Linked DNA regions of Homo sapiens: all the other regions are linked to region 2. Evidence: fine-mapped expression QTL. A gene starts in region 2. Each other region holds a variant in brackets. All regions are shown on one strand. Distances are between the middles of the regions.

Region 1 (2,759 bases), 94 kb before region 2:
GCCTTACTTCTGGGTCCCATGCTTTCTTCTTTCTTGGAATCTTTTCATTTTGGAGCGTAAGAAAGAGGACAAAGGAGGGTTTTGTTTGTTTTGAGCCCATGGCACATGTTTAACCTACGATCTTTAATAGGAATTCTTAGCCTTATGTCAGAGATGAAGCAATTGAAGTTTAGGATTATTAAGCAGTTAGGAAGTTGTCGAGTTGGTCTAGTAGGATATGTCTTGGGTCAGAGCTTCCGTCACACTGTTTTCTTATCTATCTTCTCTGTTGAGCCATGAGCTCTCTTAAGGCAAGGACCAATCCTATCTGTTCCCTTTTGTATCTCTAGTAGCAGGCTGTCCTAGGCGCTCAACTAAGGTTTCTTGAGTGAATGTGTTGGGTCTGATTTTGGAGGACATTGTTTGTTCCATCCTAACGGAATAAAAATCCCAACATTTTGTTTTTAACCTGCCAAGCCCAAATTATCTGTACCTGCTGTAATTATCTCCCACTGCCCCAGGCGCCCCCTCCCCCACAGTTTTGTGCTTGTTGTCATCTTAGAAGACAGATAGACATCTGCCTGCACCTGAAATGGCTCAAAAAATTTCCTTGGGAAGGTCTCGCCTTCATTCTTAAACCACAACATACACTTCCAATGTTTATTTTTGTGAGACACACAATAGTATAATCACAAAATATTTTTTCCCTAAAGAACAACTTACTCAAGTGAAGGCAATGCTATATTTATGACTTTTTTTTTCCTGTTTTTAGGATACCTCATGGAAACTTGACAGAACAAAGGATTTATTTTTTATTAGGTTAAATCTGCTTCTTGGGTACTGTTTGCTTGCTGCCCATTAAGTCTGGACATCTCAATTTGAAAAAAAGGCACTTGGATTAATAAAAACAACCTGAAACAGATCCCTTTAGTGGGGTGACTCTGTATTATGTTAAAACGTAATGTGACAAACACGGCTGCAGCGCCCTCCCAGAACCCAAACCTTCCAAGCTAAAAATAGCCCTTGGTCTTTCCCTGCAACTCAAAAACAGGAACAGCATAACTTGTTTGCCTCATTATGTGTTCTGCCCAGGGATCCAGCCCTCTCACATCCTGGCTCTTGCATACTTTCACAAATTCTAATCTGCCCATTACA[A/G]ATCCAACAGGCCTCATGGTAGGAAGTGAATTCTGCACAAACACAACTGCCCTAGGTCCTTAAACAATGCACTGTTCACCCAGGGGCTCACAGGAGGGAATAATAACTTTAACCACCACTTAGGGGAGGCATCTCTTAATATTTTTCTGGTTCTATGGGCATGAAGATAGGCACGCTATGTGTTTTAACCTTTTCCATCCTTACCATCTATGAGGGTAAATCTTATTATTATCCCTATTTTATAGATAAAGGAAATGAAGGCTCAGGAGATAAAAGAACTTGCCCACACTCACCCAAGACAGTGTAGGAGTGGTGGCCAAACCCAGCTGGCTTTCACATTAATGAGCATCACAGCAAACTACCTCACCATAATGCCATGGCCAAGTGAGTGGGACCTCCACTCAGAAGTGAAGGGAGATGGGCTGGGCATGGTGGCTCACACCTGTAATCCCAGCACTTTGGAAGGCAGAGGCGGGTGGACCACCTGAAGTCAGGAGTTTGAGATCAGCCTGGTCAACATGGCGAAACCCCATCTCTACTAAAAATACAAAAGTTAGCCAGGCATGGTGGCGCACGCCTGTTGTCTCAGCTACTCGAGAGGCTGAGGCAGGAGAATTGCTTGAACCCGGGAGGCGGAGGTTCAAGCCTCTGCTATCAAGCCTGAGCCGAAATCCCACTATTGCACTCCAGCCTGGTGATGGAGCGACACTCCGTCTCAAAAAAAAAAAAAAAAAAAAAAAAGTAGAGGAAGATGAAGGAATGTCTAACTCTAACTACTATTGGCCCATGAGAATAAAGGCAGAAGCTATAGATGCTCAGAGTTGGGAGGGATTATGTAGATCATCTATCCTTGGGTATCTTTTTTTCTGCAGCAGATCTGACAAGTTCCCACACAATTCCACGGGAAAATCATCGGCTTTGGATTCTTGACCCTCTGTGGAGGGAGAGGGAGGGCAAGTGGAAGTGGAGTGAATCAGTAGAAAGGAAAACAGTGCTGCAGGACAGAGAGGAGACTCTTAGAGAAGTGCTCTCCAGGGGAAGGCAAGATGGGAGAAACGAGCTGGCCTGAGAGGGGAACAGGGATGTGCCCTCTGTAGAAACAGGAGGAAAGGCCCAGCATGTGGGCACAGGCCAGTTAAGTTGGAAGTTTTGTTACTAAGAAGATGAGGTGGTTTCTAGGTGGTTGTTTCTCTTTTTCTCAGTGAACTGCAGGTGAAGGCCATCAGCTGCAAGTGAGGAAAGGAGAGAAGATACAGGAAGTTTGAGAAGACAGAGGGTGTGAAGAGTTTTGGAAGTGGAGATACTGAGAAAGTGTTTGTCCATCAGTGGCTTGAGATTTGTGTCCATATATGTCAAAGGAATCCCATCATCATGATCAGTGGATTCTGCAAAAACATGCAGCTGCTTGGGTGCAAGCATGATAGCTGGAAAGCTGGAGCTTGACATGTGAGGTTGTTGGACAGAGTTTGCAGGGCAGTGGTTGTAAGAAAGAATCATGACTCTAAGCTGGGTTGAGAGTGAGGTGTCTGATGAAAAAGTGGTAGCGCTAATAATAATCAAAGATCTCTATGAGATCTGCATACATATTGCACTGGAGGACCAGCAAAAGTGAGCTGGGAGTAGAG
Region 2 (2,759 bases):
GTTTTGAATGCAAGCATGTGGGAGCCATTTTCACCACTTTTGATGACTTCAGTAGGTTTAAGAAATGTTTTTGCTTTTATTGCATAAACCATAAAACAAAGGAAGGGACTTTTGAACTACTCAGTGAGAGTCTATATATTAAAGTTTGTTTTTCAAAAATGTGTAACTACCATTTGCAGTTTTAAAGGTCTGCTTTCCACCTACAAGTTGCCATTATCTCAAAGGTGAAATTTTAGCATATGACTAAAAACTTCCTATAGTTACAGCTTCATGATTCAGCATCTAACATCAATAATTCACAGTGAGATCATAGGAGGCTCTCTGTGGAAGGTAACGACATACATACGTTAGGAAAGGAAGCTTAGGGCATATCGAGAGCATTTTGAATTTAGACTTGTGGGCTGTGTGGGTGTCAGATGGTTGTCTCTCAGCTGGTGGGCGTCCAGAAGGATCCTTGTTTGGGCAAGGCTCTTTGAGAAAGGAGAATCTGGGTTGCCAGGGATTCCCACATGTGGTCACCAGCTCCCCACGCAGACCAGCTCACGATTTCCCAGTTACACCGGGCAGGTGGGAAACCGTTCTGCTTTCTGTGGAAAAGATTCTAACTTGGTTCCCTGCCATCCCTGAATACAAACGGGTTGGTTTTTCTTTTTTCAGCTTCCAACCCTTGCAGCTTTCCAAAAATAAATCAAACCAGCCATCAGGGCACCGAAATAATACTACTGCTAATAAGCAGCTTCGCCTAGACTTAGATAAACAACACTTCTGAGGTAAACTTTGCCCCGGAGGTCTGGAGACACTTTTTTAATGTAACCTGCTTACTAATAATTACTAGACTTCAGTGCATTAACCCTGGAAATAGATTTTAATAGCCACCCCTTAAAACAAAAGACATGAAAAGATAATAAGAAAAAAGTGCCGCAACTATTATAGAAAAACACTTGGCAGCCTGCTTCAGCCCAAGCTGAGGCCACCTCTAGCCTCTGCTAAAGCCCCCCACTCCCAATGGTCCCCGCCAACCGGATAAGAGTGCGCGCGGGACCCGCCTTCCCCTCTCGGCACCGCCCCCGCCCCCGCCCCCTCGGCTCGCCTCCCGCGTGGCTCCTCCCTTTTCCGCTCCTCTCAACCTGACTCCAGGAGCTGGGGTCAAATTGCTGGAGCAGGCTGATTTGCATAGCCCAATGGCCAAGCTGCATGCAAATGAGGCGGAAGGTGGTTGGCTGAGGGTTGGCAGGATAACCCCGGAGAGCGGGGCCCTTTGTCCTCCAGTGGCTGGTAGGCAGTGGCTGGGAGGCAGCGGCCCAATTAGTGTCGTGCGGCCCGTGGCGAGGCGAGGTCCGGGGAGCGAGCGAGCAAGCAAGGCGGGAGGGGTGGCCGGAGCTGCGGCGGCTGGCACAGGAGGAGGAGCCCGGGCGGGCGAGGGGCGGCCGGAGAGCGCCAGGGCCTGAGCTGCCGGAGCGGCGCCTGTGAGTGAGTGCAGAAAGCAGGCGCCCGCGCGCTAGCCGTGGCAGGAGCAGCCCGCACGCCGCGCTCTCTCCCTGGGCGACCTGCAGTTTGCAATATGACTTTGGAGGAATTCTCGGCTGGAGAGCAGAAGACCGAAAGGTGAGTCGGCCTGCGGACTCTTCCGGCCCGAACTTCTCTTACCTACCCCGCGCTCCCCGGTGCAGCCGGGCTGTGGAAGGCTTGCAGGGGAGGAAGCTAAAAAGTTTGCACAGGGCAACTCCCGCCCTTGCTCCCTCGGGACTCTCCGTGGAGCTCCCACGGACTGAAAGAGCGTGCCCCCCAACCCGAACGAGCCCCGCCGGGGCCTTTGCAAAGGGCAGCAGTGGCCGTCGCTGCCCGTGCGGCTCCCGTGGCTGGCAGCCTGTGGCAGGGGCACTCTCGGGACTTCTCACGGGACGCCCGGTCCTTGGGCGTGCAGGGGTCATGGGGGGTGACGGGGCCGCGGGAGCGCCGGGTTTTCGTAGAGCCCAGGTGCGCGGTGGTGCTTGCATTCGAGAGGGAGGGGCGTGGTACCGGACGAGGGGGGCGGCGATGGCCCCGAGGGCACCGGGGCTGACGGGACCCCTCGCCCTTGCCCGCGTGTAGGATGGATAAGGTGGGGGATGCCCTGGAGGAAGTGCTCAGCAAAGCCCTGAGTCAGCGCACGATCACTGTCGGGGTGTACGAAGCGGCCAAGCTGCTCAACGTGTAAGTGGGGCCCTTGCGCGTCCCCCATGGCACCCCTTCCCGCCCCAGCCCGGGAGGTCGCCTTGGCTGGGCGCCCCTCGCCCGGCCGCGCCACTTCCTGTCGCTTTTCTGCCTGTCTCGGAAGGGAGGGGGCGAGCGGGCCGGGCGGCGACCCCCAGGGACCCGGGCAGTGGTTGAGGGCGCCCGCGCTTCTGCGCTCACTGGCCCCGCCCGCTGCCCCCAGCGACCCCGATAACGTGGTGTTGTGCCTGCTGGCGGCGGACGAGGACGACGACAGAGATGTGGCTCTGCAGATCCACTTCACCCTGATCCAGGCGTTTTGCTGCGAGAACGACATCAACATCCTGCGCGTCAGCAACCCGGGCCGGCTGGCGGAGCTCCTGCTCTTGGAGACCGACGCTGGCCCCGCGGCGAGCGAGGGCGCCGAGCAGCCCCCGGACCTGCACTGCGTGCTGGTGACGGTAAGGGACTGGGGGACTGCAGCCTGCAGGGTAGAGCCCCGGAAGGACGGGAGTCAGGGCTGGGTTGCCTGATTGTGGATCTGTGGTAGGTGGGGGTCAGGAGGG
Region 3 (2,759 bases), 120 kb before region 2:
TTTCAAAAGGTCAATTATGAAGCTGTAGACTTTTTCAATTATATGAATATGTTTTCTGGGTTCTGCTACGGCCCAGACAGTGTTAACTTCTTTTTCTATTGTGGATTTTGATGTTTTCCTCCCAAGATATTAGTTTTATTATATGTCCCCAAGCCTTAAGTTTCTCCATAAAGGAAAAAAAATCTCCAGGGAAAAAAAATCAGCCTCTTAGCAGGTACTGGTGGTCATAAAACACCCAGACAACACCAGACGGTGGCGCCAGAGAGGCAGGCAGGTGGCAGGAGGGCTGCACGGAGTTGGAGGCTCCTGAGTCTTCTGTTTCATTTGCTGGCAGCTTCTGTGTGCCTCAGGTGCCAGCGGCCTGGCTACTCTTGTTTCTCACAGTGTGCTGAAGTATCATGGGGTTTGTCCCTAGCAGGTCACCCAGAGTCCAACAGGAAGTGAGAGCAGCTCCTTCCTGCTGCAGTAAGAGATGAACATTCCCTTTGGAGAGACACACTAGGTCACTACAAATGGGCCACTGAAGAACCTGGCACTGGCCGCTATCACTGGCCCCAGCTGCAGTGCTGCTTGCTGTTCACAGGTTTGTCTCTTTCTGTATTATTTATAGCAAACATGGAGGGTTCACACTGGCCTAGGCAGCATCCAAGTGCTTTTACATGTGACAACGCAGAACTTTCTAACATGGCATACCAGGACTGCAGGTGACATATGTGCCTCAATTTTTCATCACCTTACCACTGGCTATGAGTAGATTCATCCATTTATGCCACTATCATTTGTTTTGTGAATTATGTTAATACCTAATGCAAATACTATTTTCTGGTCAAGTGCGGTGCCTCACACCTGTAATCCCAGCATTTTGGGAAGCTGAGGTGGGCAGATTGCCTGAGGCTAGGAGTCTGAGACCAGCCTGGCCACATAGTGAAACTCTGTCTCTACTAAAAATACAAAAAGGTGGGACACGCCTGTAATCCCGGCTGCTCGGGAGGCTGAGGCTCGAAAATCGCTTGAACCTGAGAGGCGGAGGTTGCAGTGAGCTGAGATGGTGCCACTGCCCTTCAGCCTGGGTGACAGAGCAAGACTCTGTCTCAAAAAACAAACAAACAAACAAAAAATACCATGTATTTTCTCTGGATGCCATGGCAT[GA/G]AAAGTTGGGAAACACTGCCGTGAATGAATCTTCACACAACTTATGGGGTAGTTCTTCCTAATACCTCCTTTTTACATATGAGAAAATAGAGGCTCCGAGGGGTTGCTTGACTGGACCAAGGTCACAGAGCTAATAAGCAGTCGAGCCAGGACTGGAACCCAGATGGCCTATGTCTAGAGTTTCCATGCTCGTGTCCCTAGACCAAAAGCTCTCAACCCTAGCTATATATTAGAATCTGAGGAACTCAAACAAACAAACAAACAAACCCAAAGCCAAGAAATTGTCACAGCCAAGAGAAGCCTAAGGAGACCTGACGACTAAATGTAATGTGGACCCTGAATGGGACCCTGGAAAAGAAGAAAGACATTAAAAGAAAAACAAAGAATTCTAAATAAAACATAGACTTCAGTTAATAAAAATATATCAATATTGATCCATTAAATGTAACAAATGTACCACACTGATGTAAGATGTTAACAATAAGAGAAATGGCGGGGTGGAGTATACAGGAATTATATACTCTGTACTATCTTTGTAATAATTCTGTAAATCTCAAGGTCATCTAAGTAAAAAGTTTATTCTTAAAAAAAAAACAAGCAGAAAAATATCTGAGGGTCCTATCTCATAACAATTAAATCAGAATCACTGGAGTGAGATTCAGGTATCAGCATTTTTTAAAAAGCTCCCCAGGAGATTAAAATGTTCATCCGGGGCCAGGTGTGGTGGCTCATGCATGTAATCCCAGCACTTTGGGAGGCCTAGTCGGGCGGATCACCTGAGATCAGGAGTTCGAGACCAGCCTGGACAAGACGGTGAAACTCCGTCTCTACTGAAAATACAAAAATTGGCCAGGCGTGGTGGTGGGTGCCTGTAATCCCAGATATTCAGGAGGCTGAGGCAGGAGAATCACTGGAACCTGGGAAGAGGAGGTTGCAGTGAGCCGAGATCACACCATTGCACTCCAGCCTAGATGACAAGAGTGAGACTCCATCTCCCCTACCCCACACAAAAAATGTTCATCCAAGATGGAGAACCCCTGCACTGCCTCCCTGACATAGACCCTAAGCACTTTGAGTTCAGGGAGTTTGCTTATTCATTTTCATACCCCAAGCACCTAGCAGAGTGCCTGATACAGGTAAGGCACTCAGTATACATTTGATGAATAAGTGACTGACTCACTGAATGAATGAATGAATGAATATTTCAGCCTCTCATCAATTCAAACCTGACTTAATCAACTCTGAAGAGAAGAGATTACATGAAAACATGTAACGTCAGGCAGCAAGCCTATCGTGTCTATCACTGGGTACTGATTATTGTGTGCTAGCTGCTAGGTGCTGGCCATGGCTAGGAGTAGGTTAGGAGGTGATGCCTGTCCTCAAGGCATATTCTGTAAGGGGAGGTTAGGCCTTGTGGGGCAGGGAGTAAGCAGGCAGGGTGTGGAATCAAATGGTCTAGGTTCAAACCCCTGTTCCTGCATTTAGTAGCTGTGTGGTCCTGGGTGGTTTTCTAACCACACTGGAAACTATGGGAGATATGAAAATAAAGCAGAAACGGACGCTGCCGTGTGAAGTAGAAACCCAAGAGAAGAAATTGGTTAAACGTGGC

The links. PIP is the estimated chance that this variant, and not a neighbour inherited with it, causes the effect.
Region 1: its variant is fine-mapped to the expression of GADD45A in whole blood (TOPMed, PIP 0.94).
Region 3: its variant is fine-mapped to the expression of GADD45A in whole blood (TOPMed, PIP above 0.99).

The regions. Positions count from the first base shown.
Region 1 is chr1:67,589,497-67,592,255 of GRCh38, forward strand. LOC105378780 (a long non-coding RNA gene) reads left to right here. Exons shown (of 4, transcript XR_947474.4): 4 at 752-901. Among named protein-coding and RNA genes, the nearest start is that of LINC01702, 69 kb to the left of the region's middle. The variant A/G (reference allele first, on the strand shown) is at 1,135.
Region 2 is chr1:67,683,934-67,686,692 of GRCh38, forward strand. It overlaps GADD45A (growth arrest and DNA damage inducible alpha), which reads left to right and starts at 1,268. Exons shown (of 4, transcript NM_001924.4): 1 at 1,268-1,605; 2 at 2,092-2,193; 3 at 2,417-2,654. The coding sequence starts at 1,562. RefSeq lists silencers at 932-1,111, 1,122-1,181, 1,372-1,531, 2,002-2,131, 2,202-2,341 and enhancers at 2,239-2,759, 2,442-2,491, 2,522-2,759, 2,697-2,759.
Region 3 is chr1:67,561,577-67,564,335 of GRCh38, forward strand. LOC105378780 (a long non-coding RNA gene) reads left to right here and starts at 472. Exons shown (of 4, transcript XR_947474.4): 1 at 472-583. The variant GA/G (reference allele first, on the strand shown) is at 1,150.